4 separate regions of the Homo sapiens genome follow, and all the other regions are reported to be linked to region 3. The links are microRNA targets in miRTarBase. Many come from high-throughput screens and were not tested one by one. Region 3 holds a microRNA gene; each other region holds the end of a gene's coding sequence.
The links. The annotated mature microRNA hsa-miR-19b-3p reads UGUGCAAAUCCAUGCAAAACUGA and lies in region 3 at 1,959-1,981, shown strand. An mRNA with a match to its seed (bases 2 to 7 or 8) in the 3' UTR can be bound and repressed. Matches are read on the target gene's strand: a 7mer-m8 pairs with bases 2 to 8, a 7mer-A1 pairs with bases 2 to 7 and ends in A, and an 8mer does both.

Region 1 (3,136 bases), not on the chromosome of region 3:
TAATTTATCCATTTTACTGTTGATAGACATTAGATTGTTTCCAGTTTGGGGCTATCTGGGTATCATTTCTGTGTATGCCCTTTGATGTATATATGCATTCATTTCTGTTAGAGTAGAATTGTTGGGTCCTCGGGTATGTCTGTGTTCATTAGCATATTTATTTTATACTTCTATATAATCATTTTTTTGTGTTTTGCTTCTTGTGCAGTTTGCCTGAGAATACAGATCAACCCACAGAACAAAGCGGATTTCCAAGGCATCTCCCCAGAGCGAGCCTTTGCTGATTTTCTCTTTGCCAGCACCATCCTGCACCTTGTTGTCATGAACTTTGTTGGCTGAATCATTCTCATTTACTTAATTGAGGAGTAGGAGACTAAAAGAATGTAAGTGATGATCATAGTCCTTGTCCTATAATGTTGATTTTAGGAAGAGAAATTGGATGGGACTGGTTTTGATCATGGTTGGCCAGGCTCCCATACTGCTATTGACATTTGCAGAATTTTCCATTGGTCTGCAAAGTATGCATTAATATCATCATAATTCATCAGTGCTACTGCTCTTGGTCATTGCCTTGTCTTTCTGTTCTTCAAATCATTAAGGTAATAGAAAATTAATGTTTGTAGCTAGTACAATAATTTCTGTACCAATAACTCCACGAAAATAACTCGGAGATTTTGGAAGAGACATAAATGGTAGGTTTTGCCTTTAGATTTGTTAGTTAATTTTTTTCTGATTTTGATCTCAGATGACTTTTAATGCTGGACCATTGTTTTCATAGCACTTAAATTTGATAGCATCCAGTGTATGTTGGATGAATGACTGTGGGCATTTGCTAATATGTGCCTTAAAGTAGAAATAAATGGGGAAATTGGGTTAACTTGGGAGAAGACTTTAAAATATAAGATGGGATGCTGCTTGGTTCATTTGCCATTTTCACTTTTTTAGCAGTAGAGTTCTTTCTCCCTTCTCCCAAACAAACTCTTACAAAAAGAATCTTGGTATATAAAGCAGAAGTAGAATTGGAGTTTTTTTTGATGGACAGAAATTGAAAAGCCCTCTCTGCTTGGCCTTCATCACATATGGTACGCCCTCCCCTAAATCGCTCCCTCCCAAGCAGAGTTCTAAAGCTTTAATAAATATATGGCTGTTTTCCATACCGTATGTCAACACTGTTACTTTATATATGAGACAACAGAGGCCTAGAACAATCCATTGGCCTTCCCTGGCCACATAGTTAAGTGTTTGCAGTGAAGTGCCCTAGTCTAGCGGTGTTCTTGGCCCCGTACTCCTTCCGGTATCCCATGTAGCTTACTGATGAATGCATGCAATCTTTGCCTTTGCATTGCAAAATGTAATGTTCTGGGTGGTAGAGAAAAGAGAACCTTAGGAGATCTCATCCTATTTGGGGGAAGGATATCCTAGGACCAACCTCTTCCTGTCACCACTTGGAAAGCTGTCATTTTTATACTAACCAGCAGAAATCTAGTATAAGAGTTAGAGCATCTATGTGCAAAGTGGATGCAATAATGTGGAAGTGACTATACTTCCTTTTCTGACATGAATTAGTCATTTACTTATAATATGTTACCTAAATCCTTTCCTTTGATACTGCCTCAAAAACAGTTCTGTTAGTTCAGGTAAGGTATCATTTTGGTAGTGGTAAGTTGACAGTGAGGTTTATTTCAGTGAAAAACTTTTTTTTTTTCTTTTCTGTTTTTTTTTTTTTTTTTTTGAGATGGAGTCTCGCTCTGTTACCCAGGCTGGAGTGCAGTGGTGCGATCTCGGCTCACTGCAGACTCCGCCTCCCGAGTTCATGCCATTCTCCTGCCTCAGCCTCCCGAGTAGCTGGGACTACAGGCGCCCGCCACCACGCCCGGCTAATTTTTTGTATTTTTAGTAGAGACGGAGTTTCACCGTGTTAGGATGATCTCGATCTCCTGACCTGGTGATCCGCCCGCCTTGGCCTCCCAACAGTGAAAAACTTTTAAGAACCACTTTGTTCTGTTATTTTAATACAATTTAACTCATTAGACACCTGATTAAGACTTGAGTTATCCTCTTCCTCCCTTCCTCCCTCCCCTTCTATGTGCCAGCCAATGTCTTGTTGTTGGGAATATAAACAATATTGTTGGCTGGGCGTGGTGGTTCATGCCTATAATCCCAGCACTTTCGGAAGGCGAGGTGGGCGATTGCTTGAGCTCAAGAATTTGAGACCAGCATGGGCAACATAGCAAGACCCTATCTCAATTAAAAAAAAAAACCCAAAAGTGTGGCTTCTGCCTTCAAGACATGTACAGTCTAGTAGGGGAGAATACGTAAACATAACAGTTAAAATACAGCCCATTTAGGGCCTCGCTATAGGTTTGAACAAAGTGCTGCAAAAATCCAGAGAAGAGAGCAGCTGTACCATCTGGGAGCAGGGACAGCAGATGAGTTATCTGAGCAATGGATAACAGCTATTGCTAGTTAAAATGAACTGTTACCAGTGGATAACCTTGAATGCAGGTAGAAAACTGACCCACCAACATTGACCTTCTCACGCTTGCAAATATGAGTAACCCTTGGGCTTCCTGATAGAGCCTTCTGGAAAGGTCATGTCTTCTGATTGCTTACTCTAGATTTCTGAAGTTCTTTTTTTCTAGATGAGTCATGGTGTGTACTTAGGAAGGGGACACAGCAAACATTTCAAGGATGTTTTCTAGGCTCAGGGAGATACCAAATCATGGAAAATTATTTCTTAGGGCTGTCATGATTGGAGGAAGACTCTACTGCAGAGAGCTTAGTATTTCAAAATTATGACAAAAGCAAAGACAAAAAAGCAGTCTCAGCAGAAACTGTGTACTGCAGACCATATTAACAACCTAGGACCACCTGCTCAGCTGGGAATTATGGGCCCAAAGCATAGCAAAATCCTCAATCCCAGATTGCAGTGTTAAATCTTTCTATGGAGAGTATGTTCATAGAAAAATCTTTCTCTCTGGGGGATTGCCCAGATTGTTTTTCATAGAGATCCTTCATTTGAATTATACTATACTGTCCTGCTCTCAGTTTTTAAAAATATACATTTATTTGCTCCTTTTATGTGCTTCTAACTCAGCTATATGTGCACTGTGCCACAGCACTTTAAAAATAGTTC
Region 2 (3,150 bases), not on the chromosome of region 3:
TTGGGAGACAGAGGTGGGAGGATTGCTTGAGTCCAGGAGGTTGAGGCTGCAGTGAGCCGCAATTGTGCCACTGCACTCCAACCTGGGCAACAAAGCGAGAGTCCCTCTCCAGGAAAACCAAAAAAAAAAAAAAAGCAAAAAATAATTTTTTCTAAAATAATTTTCAATATTTTCCTACAGATTTCTTTTGAATTTCGATCACTTCTACATTCCCAGCTTGCCACACTCTTTTTTGATGAAGTTGTGAAGCAGATGGTAGCTGCCTTTGAAAGAAGAGCATGTAAGCTGTATGGTCCAGAAACAAATATACCTCGGGAGTTAATGCTTCATGAAGTCCATCACACATAAAGGCAAAAAAGAACTGGTGCCACCTGCTTCTGACTTTAGTTTGTTCACTTTTAGGAAGTATTTTCATGACATGTTTTCAGAAGCCAGAAAGCATTTGTTAAACGCAGCTTTGGTTATAAACCTGCACCATTGAAAATTTGCACATAGAATATAGACTCACTTGTACATAGAATTATTTCTTCAAGTATAATTCAAAATAATATGGACATTATCATGTTCTGCATTACAATAATGGGATGTCATCACCATTGCTAGAATACTGGCATGATTCTTCTGAGCAGAAGTTGAAACTGTAAATTTAAACCTTTTAATTATCACCTTACCTGAAAGAGGTTAGTTAAGATATTCACACAGTATGTATTATATTAACCATATCACACTTAAGTTATTAAATTCAGACTATTTGTAACTTATTGTTATAGGGCCTGCCGTATGGCTTAGGATATTTGAGTAATCATATATTTAAAGTAAAAACTTTGGGCTGGGCACAGTGGCTCACACCTGTAATCCCAGCACTTGGGGAAGCTGAGGTGGGCAGATCAGTTGAGGTCAGGAGTTCTAGACCAGCCTGGTCAACATGGCGAAACCCCATCTCTACTAAAAATACAAAAATTAGCTGGGCGTGGTGGCACACACCTGTAATCCCAGTTACTTGGGAGGCTGAGGCACAAGAATCGCTTGAACCCGGGAGGCGGAGGTTGCAGTTAGCCAAGATCGCCCTGCTGCACTCCAGCCTGGGCAACAGAGGGAGACTCTGTCTCCAAAAACAAAAACAAAAACTGTTAGTGAAGGTTCCCTGGGACTTTTGATATTTTAAAAATTGTTCTTATGACTAGTAGATAAATTCATTGCCATAATGAGGCTAGCTCCCAGATAAACAGTGTATTTTCTTCTTTTTTTTTTTTTTTTTGGTGAGTGGTCCAGAGCTTTAAGCTACTTTTCCAGTAGTTTGCCACTTTCTCCGAGGTAGTTTGGCTGCTCTTTCAGTAATGCTAATTGTGTGTCAAATTTTGTCTACAACAGTAGGCAACAGATGAAGATAAGTTGGTTGAATGTCTCCAGCACTATGCATCCCTATTTTCTATTTATTGTGTACACTCACTTTCAGTAATGTGTTTCAAACTGGTATTTTTTAAAAAACAAATCAATGTAAGGACTGAAGTTGAAGTAGCAATGTAATAAAGTTAATTTGTTTATTTTTTGTACAGTTAGTTTGGTTATTGAAATCTTCCTATATTGTTTAAATGTGTATTTGCATAGACATAGTAAAGTGTTACAGCATTTCATGTCTTAAAAATATCTATGAAGATATCTAAAATATCTATTTCTATGAAGAAACAGACTTTAACAAATATAAGCAAAATTCAGTTTTCTTTTAACCAGTCATTGATCTCCTGTCCTCCTTTCACTACATACCAACAACCCTCTGGCATTAAACTTCCAGTGATAGTGCTATTAACTTTGTTTCCTCAGGTCAACAAGGGACCTCAGTAATTAGTTCTCTACATAAGTATATATATGGGTATTAATTTGTTTAATAAATCTGTTTTGAGCACCTGCTTTCAATCAGACACTGGGTATAGAGTGATGAAGGATTCATATCAGCCTCTACTCATGAGGAGCCAGGTTGTGCTCTCACACAAGGTAAGCAGTATCTTTCCACTTACAGATGAGGTATTTGCCAAGAGCATAAGTAGTTTGTATATAGTTATATACCTTTTTTTTTTTTCTTTTCTTGAGACGGAGTTTCGCTTTTGTTGCCCAGGCTGGAGTGCAATGACGCGATCTCAGCTCACCGCATCCTCTGCCTCCCACGTTCAAGCAATTCTCCTGCCTCAGCCTCCTGAGTAGCTGGGATTACAGGCATGCACCACCACACCTGGCTAATTTTGTATTTTTAGTAGAAACGGGGTTTCTCCGTGTTGATGAGGCTGGCCTCAAACTCCCAACCTCAGGTGATCTGCCTGCCTCAGCCTTCCTAAGTGCTGGCATTACAGGCGTGAGCCACTGTCCCTGGCCAGTGTACCAATGTAGCTTTTTAAATAACAAAGTTTTTTTTTTTTTTTTGGCTGGGCACGCTGGCTCATGCCTGCAATCCCAGCACTTTGGGAGGCTGAGGCAGGCAGATCACGGGGTCAAGAGATTGAGACCATCCTGGCCAACATGGTGAAACCCTGTCTCTACTAAAAATACAAAAATTAGCTGGGTGTGGTGGCGTGCGCCTGTAGTCCCAGCTACTCGGGAGGCTGAGGCAGGAGAATCACTTGAACCCAGGAGGCGGAGGTTGCAGTGAGCAGACATCACATCACTGTATTCCAGCCTGGCGACAGAGGAAGATTCCACCTCAAAAAAAAAACAAAAAACAAAAAACTTTTTTTTGTTGTTTCGTTTTGTTTTTTGTTTTTTTGAGACAGAGTCTCAACTCTGTTGTCCAGGCTGGAGTGCAGTGGCACAATCTCGGCTCACTGCAACCTCCGCCTCCCAGGTTCAAGTGATTCTCCTGCTTCAGCCTCTCAAGTAGCTGGAGAGTATCAGCGCGCACCACCACATCGGCTAATTTTTGTATTTTTTAGTGGAGACGGTTTCACCATGTTTCCCAGGCTGGTCTTGAACTCCTGACCTTAAATGATCTGCCGGCCTTGGCCTCCCAGGGTGTTGGGATTATAGGCGTGAGCTACTGCACCCGGCCACAAAGTTTTTTTAAAATGGCAAAGTCATTTAAAGCTTTTTAAAAATAAGACTCAGACATTTTATTATCTCCATGTACTGTATTCTCTTTTTTAAAAAATTATTTATTTATTT
Region 3 (3,150 bases):
GGACCACAGCAGTTGGAGAAACAACTCTTTATCCCGGCTTGCAGCCACGAGGTCTTGATTGGGGGAGGGGTGGTGAAGAATAGTCTGTGGGCTGCTTTTTTTTTTTCCTTTTACTGGAGCTGTACAGTGGAGTCGGTGATTGCTGCTGATCATAATCAAGTATTTTAGGAGCTTATTTAGACATGTATCTGATAGCTAAGGATTTTTCAACTTTATTCTCTTACGTATTTTTCAACTGTAAATTATTGGGCTTTTAAATCCTGCTAGTATTGCTCGACTCTTACTCTCACAAATGGATGGAATTAATTGCTGTTAGGAGGTTGGAAAATAGCAAATATAGATTTGGACGGTGGTAGTAATTTTGAGCAAATAATGTTTTATCTTTTTTTTCCTTATTTTTCCCTATTCCAGTCATACACGTGGACCTAACTGCACCAGTAGCTTTTCTGAGAATACTTGCTGAAAAGGAAGTTTTCTGGAATGGGTAAGTGTATTCTGATTTTCTTGAACTTTTCTTAAAAACAAATTTTTCTTGCTATTAAAGTTGAATAAATAGGATTGGTTTCTTAGAGAGTAAAAGTAGGTGTTTCTTTCTTTAGACAATGTACCTTTTCTGAAAAACTAACTCATTAAGTACGGATTTGCTAATTTTAAGGTAGTAAAATTACAGTGTAAATATTCCTGTACATTTTTGGAAACTGGCTTATGCAGTTTACGAAATATAATTTTAGACCCTCTTTTAAGTTGGGTGATAAAGTAGATATAACCTGAGATGATAGATTTAAACAGGATATTTACGTTCTGCTACAATTGACTGATAACACTTGAAGTGTAGTCTGAACAGTAATTTTGTTAATCATTTCAACAAGTATTTGCTAAGTGGAAGCCAGAAGAGGAGGAAAATGTTTTGCCACGTGGATGTGAAGATTTCCTCTAAAAGGTACACATGGACTAAATTGCCTTTAAATGTTCCAAAATTAGTTCTCATTTATTTGCAGTCTCATTTTGTTTTGTTTTTTTTCTCTATGTGTCAATCCATTTGGGAGAGGCCAGCCATTGGAAGAGCCACCACTTCCAGTGCTAGTTGGATGGTTGGTTATGATTGCCTTCTGTAAAGAATTCTTAAGGCATAAATACGTGTCTAAATGGACCTCATATCTTTGAGATAATTAAACTAATTTTTTCTTCCCCATTAGGGATTATGCTGAATTTGTATGGTTTATAGTTGTTAGAGTTTGAGGTGTTAATTCTAATTATCTATTTCAAATTTAGCAGGAAAAAAGAGAACATCACCTTGTAAAACTGAAGATTGTGACCAGTCAGAATAATGTCAAAGTGCTTACAGTGCAGGTAGTGATATGTGCATCTACTGCAGTGAAGGCACTTGTAGCATTATGGTGACAGCTGCCTCGGGAAGCCAAGTTGGGCTTTAAAGTGCAGGGCCTGCTGATGTTGAGTGCTTTTTGTTCTAAGGTGCATCTAGTGCAGATAGTGAAGTAGATTAGCATCTACTGCCCTAAGTGCTCCTTCTGGCATAAGAAGTTATGTATTCATCCAATAATTCAAGCCAAGCAAGTATATAGGTGTTTTAATAGTTTTTGTTTGCAGTCCTCTGTTAGTTTTGCATAGTTGCACTACAAGAAGAATGTAGTTGTGCAAATCTATGCAAAACTGATGGTGGCCTGCTATTTCCTTCAAATGAATGATTTTTACTAATTTTGTGTACTTTTATTGTGTCGATGTAGAATCTGCCTGGTCTATCTGATGTGACAGCTTCTGTAGCACTAAAGTGCTTATAGTGCAGGTAGTGTTTAGTTATCTACTGCATTATGAGCACTTAAAGTACTGCTAGCTGTAGAACTCCAGCTTCGGCCTGTCGCCCAATCAAACTGTCCTGTTACTGAACACTGTTCTATGGTTAGTTTTGCAGGTTTGCATCCAGCTGTGTGATATTCTGCTGTGCAAATCCATGCAAAACTGACTGTGGTAGTGAAAAGTCTGTAGAAAAGTAAGGGAAACTCAAACCCCTTTCTACACAGGTTGGGATCGGTTGCAATGCTGTGTTTCTGTATGGTATTGCACTTGTCCCGGCCTGTTGAGTTTGGTGGGGATTGTGACCAGAAGATTTTGAAAATTAAATATTACTGAAGATTTCGACTTCCACTGTTAAATGTACAAGATACATGAAATATTAAAGAAAATGTGTAACTTTTTGTGTAAATACATCTTGTCTTGTTTTCATTCAAAAACATTTCACTTTTGGGGTTGCGTGTCAGATTTGGCAGTATAAATTCTGGCTATATTTTTTGTTGTTAGATTTATTTGGCTGTTAAGTATTGCGATATGACTAAACATACTGTATACCTGATGATCATCTGTAAAGTTAGAGTATATCTTTTTGCTTTCTTTGGAGTTAGTGTTATTCCAGGATATTTTACTTAATCTAAAAGTTAATTTATGTTGCTCATATATTACTCAAGTATTTAAATTTAGAGAGAATGCCGCTCTGTTTAAAGCAATGTGTAAAGATGAGTTTTTTTAAGCATGGAATTTAGGGTTGGGGTACAATTTGTTTCTATTAAGCAAGTACCAGTTTACCAATACATGAGTAACTGAAGTGTAACTGTTAAATGCTTGTATACTAGTTTTTCTTTCTGATTGTCAGTGATTTATAAGCTATAAATGACCAAGGTCCTCAGACTGCTTTTAGCATCTGCAACTTAAAAAAATGGGAGTTAGAAAAAGAACAAATGCTAAATAGAGTAACAGTTAAATGTATGTGTACACTCTTCCCAAATGCCAAGAGTGCAGCGGTGGGGTGAGATTCAGATATTCATTTATTTCTAAGTCTGTAGTTAACATTTATGTTCCCTACTCCCTACGTAAGCCAGACTTTGGCAACAGTGATAGTTGATTCCAGGCTTATTTGACTTAAAGTCACTGAAGTGGAAACTAAGAAGTGGCAGTTAGTGTTTTACCCAGCATTTCTGCCTTCTCTCTTTTCTTCATGTGTTTTTGTCTCTAGCCTATGTGTATTTGTGTAGAATAATGTGGGATACCTGAATAATAGATTTAAAAGGACCAAGTGGTAAAATTGGGCCCAAGCTGAAGTACAGGCAAACTTGATGTTTGAAAGATAAGTTTTGAGAA
Region 4 (3,124 bases), not on the chromosome of region 3:
GGTCTCAAACTCCTGACCTCAGGTGATCCAGCCTCCCAAAGTGCTGGGATTACAAGCATGAGCCACAGCGCCCAGCCTATTTCTCTTCTCTGTGAGGACCTCAGCCCTTGCAAAATATGAGATGACAGGTAAAGGACAGGTTTGTTTTTATTCTGCTCTATTATGTATGTTTCTTTTTTTTTTTTTTGAGACAGTCTCACTGCCGCAGGCTGGAGTGCAGTGGCGCAATCTCAGATCACCGCAACCTCCGGCTTCTAGGTTCAAGTGATCCTCCCGCCTCAGCCTCCCCAGCAGTTTAGTAGAGATGGGGTTTCGCCATGTTGGCCAGGCTGGTCTTGAACTCCGGACCTCAAGTGATCCACCCGCCTCAGACTCCCAATGTGTTGGGATTACAGGCATGAGCCACCGTACCCGGCTAGTATGTATGTTTTTAGAAGATGTGATAATCTTTTCTTTTTTTTGAGATGGAGTCTCTCTCTGTCACCCAGGCTGGAGTGCAGTGGCGTGATCTCGGCTCACTGCAAGCTCCACCTCCTGAGTTCACGCCATTCTCCTGCCTCAGCCTCCCGAGTAGCTGGGACTACAGGCACACGCTACCAAGCCCAGCTAATTTTTTTTTTTTGTATTTTTAGTAGAGACGGAGTTTCACCGTGTTAGCCAGGATGGTCTTTTTTTTTTTTTTTTTTTTTTTTTTTTTTTTTAAGAGAAATGAGGATACTATAGATAAGCACCTATTAAAATTTAAAATGTTCACTTAGGTGTTTTCTTTAGCATGAGGTCTGAAGGGTTTATTAAATAAATACTTAAATGCTTTACTCCAAAGGTTTTAAAATAGTTTAATGAAAAAATAAATATAGTGTATGAATGATCTAAGTATGAGAAATAGCAAGGACAAAATAGCAAATATTTTTGTAGGGGAGAAGGAATCTGAATGTGTATGGAATATTAAGGAGAATAAGAAATTAATTTAACAGGGGCTGTGGCGGGGGGTGGGAGAACATGAGGAAAAATAGCTAATACATGCTGGACTTAATACCGAGGTGATGTGTTGATAGGTGCAGCAAACCACCGAGGCACACGTTTCCCTATGTAACAAACCTGCATATCCTGCACATGGATCCTGGAACTTAAAATTAAAAGAAAAAGAAAAAATTAAACAAAATGGTTACTTTTGGCCAGGCATAGTGGCTCACACCTGTAATCCCAGCACTTTGGGAGCCCGAGTGGGTGGATCACTTGAGGCCAGGAGTTCAAGAGCACCCTGGCCAACATGGCAAAACCATGTCTCTACTAAAAAGGAAATACAAAAAAATTAGCCGGGCGTGGTGGCACATGCCTGTAATCCCAGCTGCTTGGGTGGCTCAGACACGAGAATCACTTGAACCTGGGAGGCAGAGGTTGCAGTGAGCCAAGATGGCACCACTGCACTCCAGACTGGGCAACAGAGTGAGACTCTGTCTCAAAAAACAAAAAGTTACTTTAGTATATTTGGGCTTATTTATTTATTGAGACACGTCACTCTGTCACCCAGGCTGGAGTGCTGTGTCAGGATCTTGGCTCACTGCAACCGCTGCCCTCCAGATTCAAGCAATCCTCCCACCTTAGCCTCCAGAATAGCTGGGACTACAGGTGAACACCTGGCCCAGCTAATCTTTGCATTTTTTTTTTTTTTTGAGACGGAGTCTCGCTCTGTTGCCCAGGCTGGAGTGCAGTGGCGTGATCTCTGCTCACTGCAAGCTCCACCTCCCGGGTTCATGCCATTCTCCTGCCTCAGCCTCCCGAGTAGCTGGGACTACAGGCGCCCACCACCACGCCCGGCTAATTTTTTGTATTTTTAGTAGAGACGGGGTTTCACTGTGTTAGCCAGGATGGTCTCAATCTCCTGACCTCATGATCTACCTGCCTCGGCCTCCCAAAGTGCTGGGATTACAGGCCTGACCCACCGTGCCCGGCCATCTTTGCATCTTTTATAGAGACAGGGTTTCACTGTGTTCCCCAGGCTGGTCTTGAACTCCTGGACTCAAGCTATCTATCTGTCTACCTCTGCCTTCCAAAGTGCTGGGATTACAGGCGTGAGCCACCATGCCCAGCCTGGCTCATTTATAATTGTCTAGTTTCCAGTACCTGAGACCACAGGCGTGTGTCATCTTGCCAGGCTAATTTTTGTATTTTTAGTAGAGACAGGGTTTTACCCTGTTGGTCAGGCTGGTCTTGAACTCCTGACCTCAGGTGATCCGCTGGCCTCAGCCTCCCAATGTGCTGGGATTACAGGCATGAGCTAGAGCGCCCGGCCATATTTCCCACTTTGGTTTGGGCTTCTGAAAAAATAAAGGAAGACAATTCTTTCTGCCTATCCTTACTATGTCGTCCTCTGCAAGCTGTCGCCTCTGTATATAAGTACATCTAACAACACTGTCATGAAAAATCTATACCAGAGATATGATTAATTCCACCCACAACTGATGTATGTTTTCTGATTATATTTCTCAAGCCAAATATCTGCAACAATAACATGTATTGAAAGGTATAGAAATAAACAGATGGATAGACAGAAAAAGACTCAGACTGTCTAAGTAGTGAAGTTTGTGCAGAACTAGAAACAAAAATCCACCTGGGTCAGAGGTATAGGGTTAATTTCTCTTGCTGAGGCTCAGATTTCTCCTTCATGCATGTTTAATGGTCCACCTAAGTTCAACTGGAGGAGCATCTTTCTTCTTTGTTAACCAAACATGCCCAGGTAGAGCTGCTTCTCTTTTCTATGGTAGCTGCTGAGTTCTGACTGTGTCAGCTGGAGGTACCGCCGGACGTTGGCATCTTGGAAGATGATGGAGAAGCAATTAGAAACAGTTAGAGTCAGTTAAGACCATAATCATACCTTGTGGCAGGAGAGAATGTTAACATGCTCCCATTTTAAAATCTCTCCAAGATCTGAATATATCGCAACCATTCTATGCAATAGTAAATCTCATTAATTAATAACATTTGGAATTGAAAAAAAACAATCTCTGTCCCGGCTGCTAATTTTTATTTATTTATTTATTTATTTATTTTATTTATTTACTTACTTTTGAGACAGGGTCTCGCTCTGTCACCCAGGCTAGAGTGCAATAGCATGGGATCTCCA

Region 1: the mRNA of DAD1 is a reported target of hsa-miR-19b-3p. The part of its 3' UTR that is shown has no 7-base or 8-base seed match.
Region 2: miRTarBase lists COQ10B as a target of hsa-miR-19b-3p. Seed matches in the 3' UTR shown: 8mer at 485-492.
Region 4: miRTarBase lists TTC9C as a target of hsa-miR-19b-3p. The part of its 3' UTR that is shown has no 7-base or 8-base seed match.

Annotation. Positions count from the first base shown.
Region 1 is chr14:22,572,306-22,575,441 of GRCh38, reverse strand. It overlaps DAD1 (defender against cell death 1), which reads left to right. Exons shown (of 3, transcript NM_001344.4): 2 at 209-383. The coding sequence ends at 339. Among named protein-coding and RNA genes, the nearest start is that of DAD1, 15 kb to the left of the region's middle.
Region 2 is chr2:197,473,577-197,476,726 of GRCh38, forward strand. It overlaps COQ10B (coenzyme Q10B), which reads left to right. Exons shown (of 5, transcript NM_025147.5): 5 at 181-1,734. The coding sequence ends at 348. Among named protein-coding and RNA genes, the nearest start is that of SNORA105B, 12 kb to the right of the region's middle.
Region 3 is chr13:91,349,287-91,352,436 of GRCh38, forward strand. It overlaps MIR19B1 (microRNA 19b-1), which reads left to right and starts at 1,906; the gene lies at 1,906-1,992. It overlaps MIR17HG (miR-17-92a-1 cluster host gene), which reads left to right. Exons shown (of 3, transcript NR_197388.1): 2 at 412-484; 3 at 870-3,150. MIR17 (microRNA 17) reads left to right here and starts at 1,319; the gene lies at 1,319-1,402. MIR18A (microRNA 18a) reads left to right here and starts at 1,465; the gene lies at 1,465-1,535. It also overlaps MIR19A, MIR20A and MIR92A1. RefSeq lists an enhancer at 1-534.
Region 4 is chr11:62,737,978-62,741,101 of GRCh38, reverse strand. TTC9C (tetratricopeptide repeat domain 9C) reads right to left here. Exons shown (of 3, transcript NM_173810.4): 3 at 2,466-2,814. The coding sequence ends at 2,720. Among named protein-coding and RNA genes, the nearest start is that of TTC9C, 11 kb to the right of the region's middle.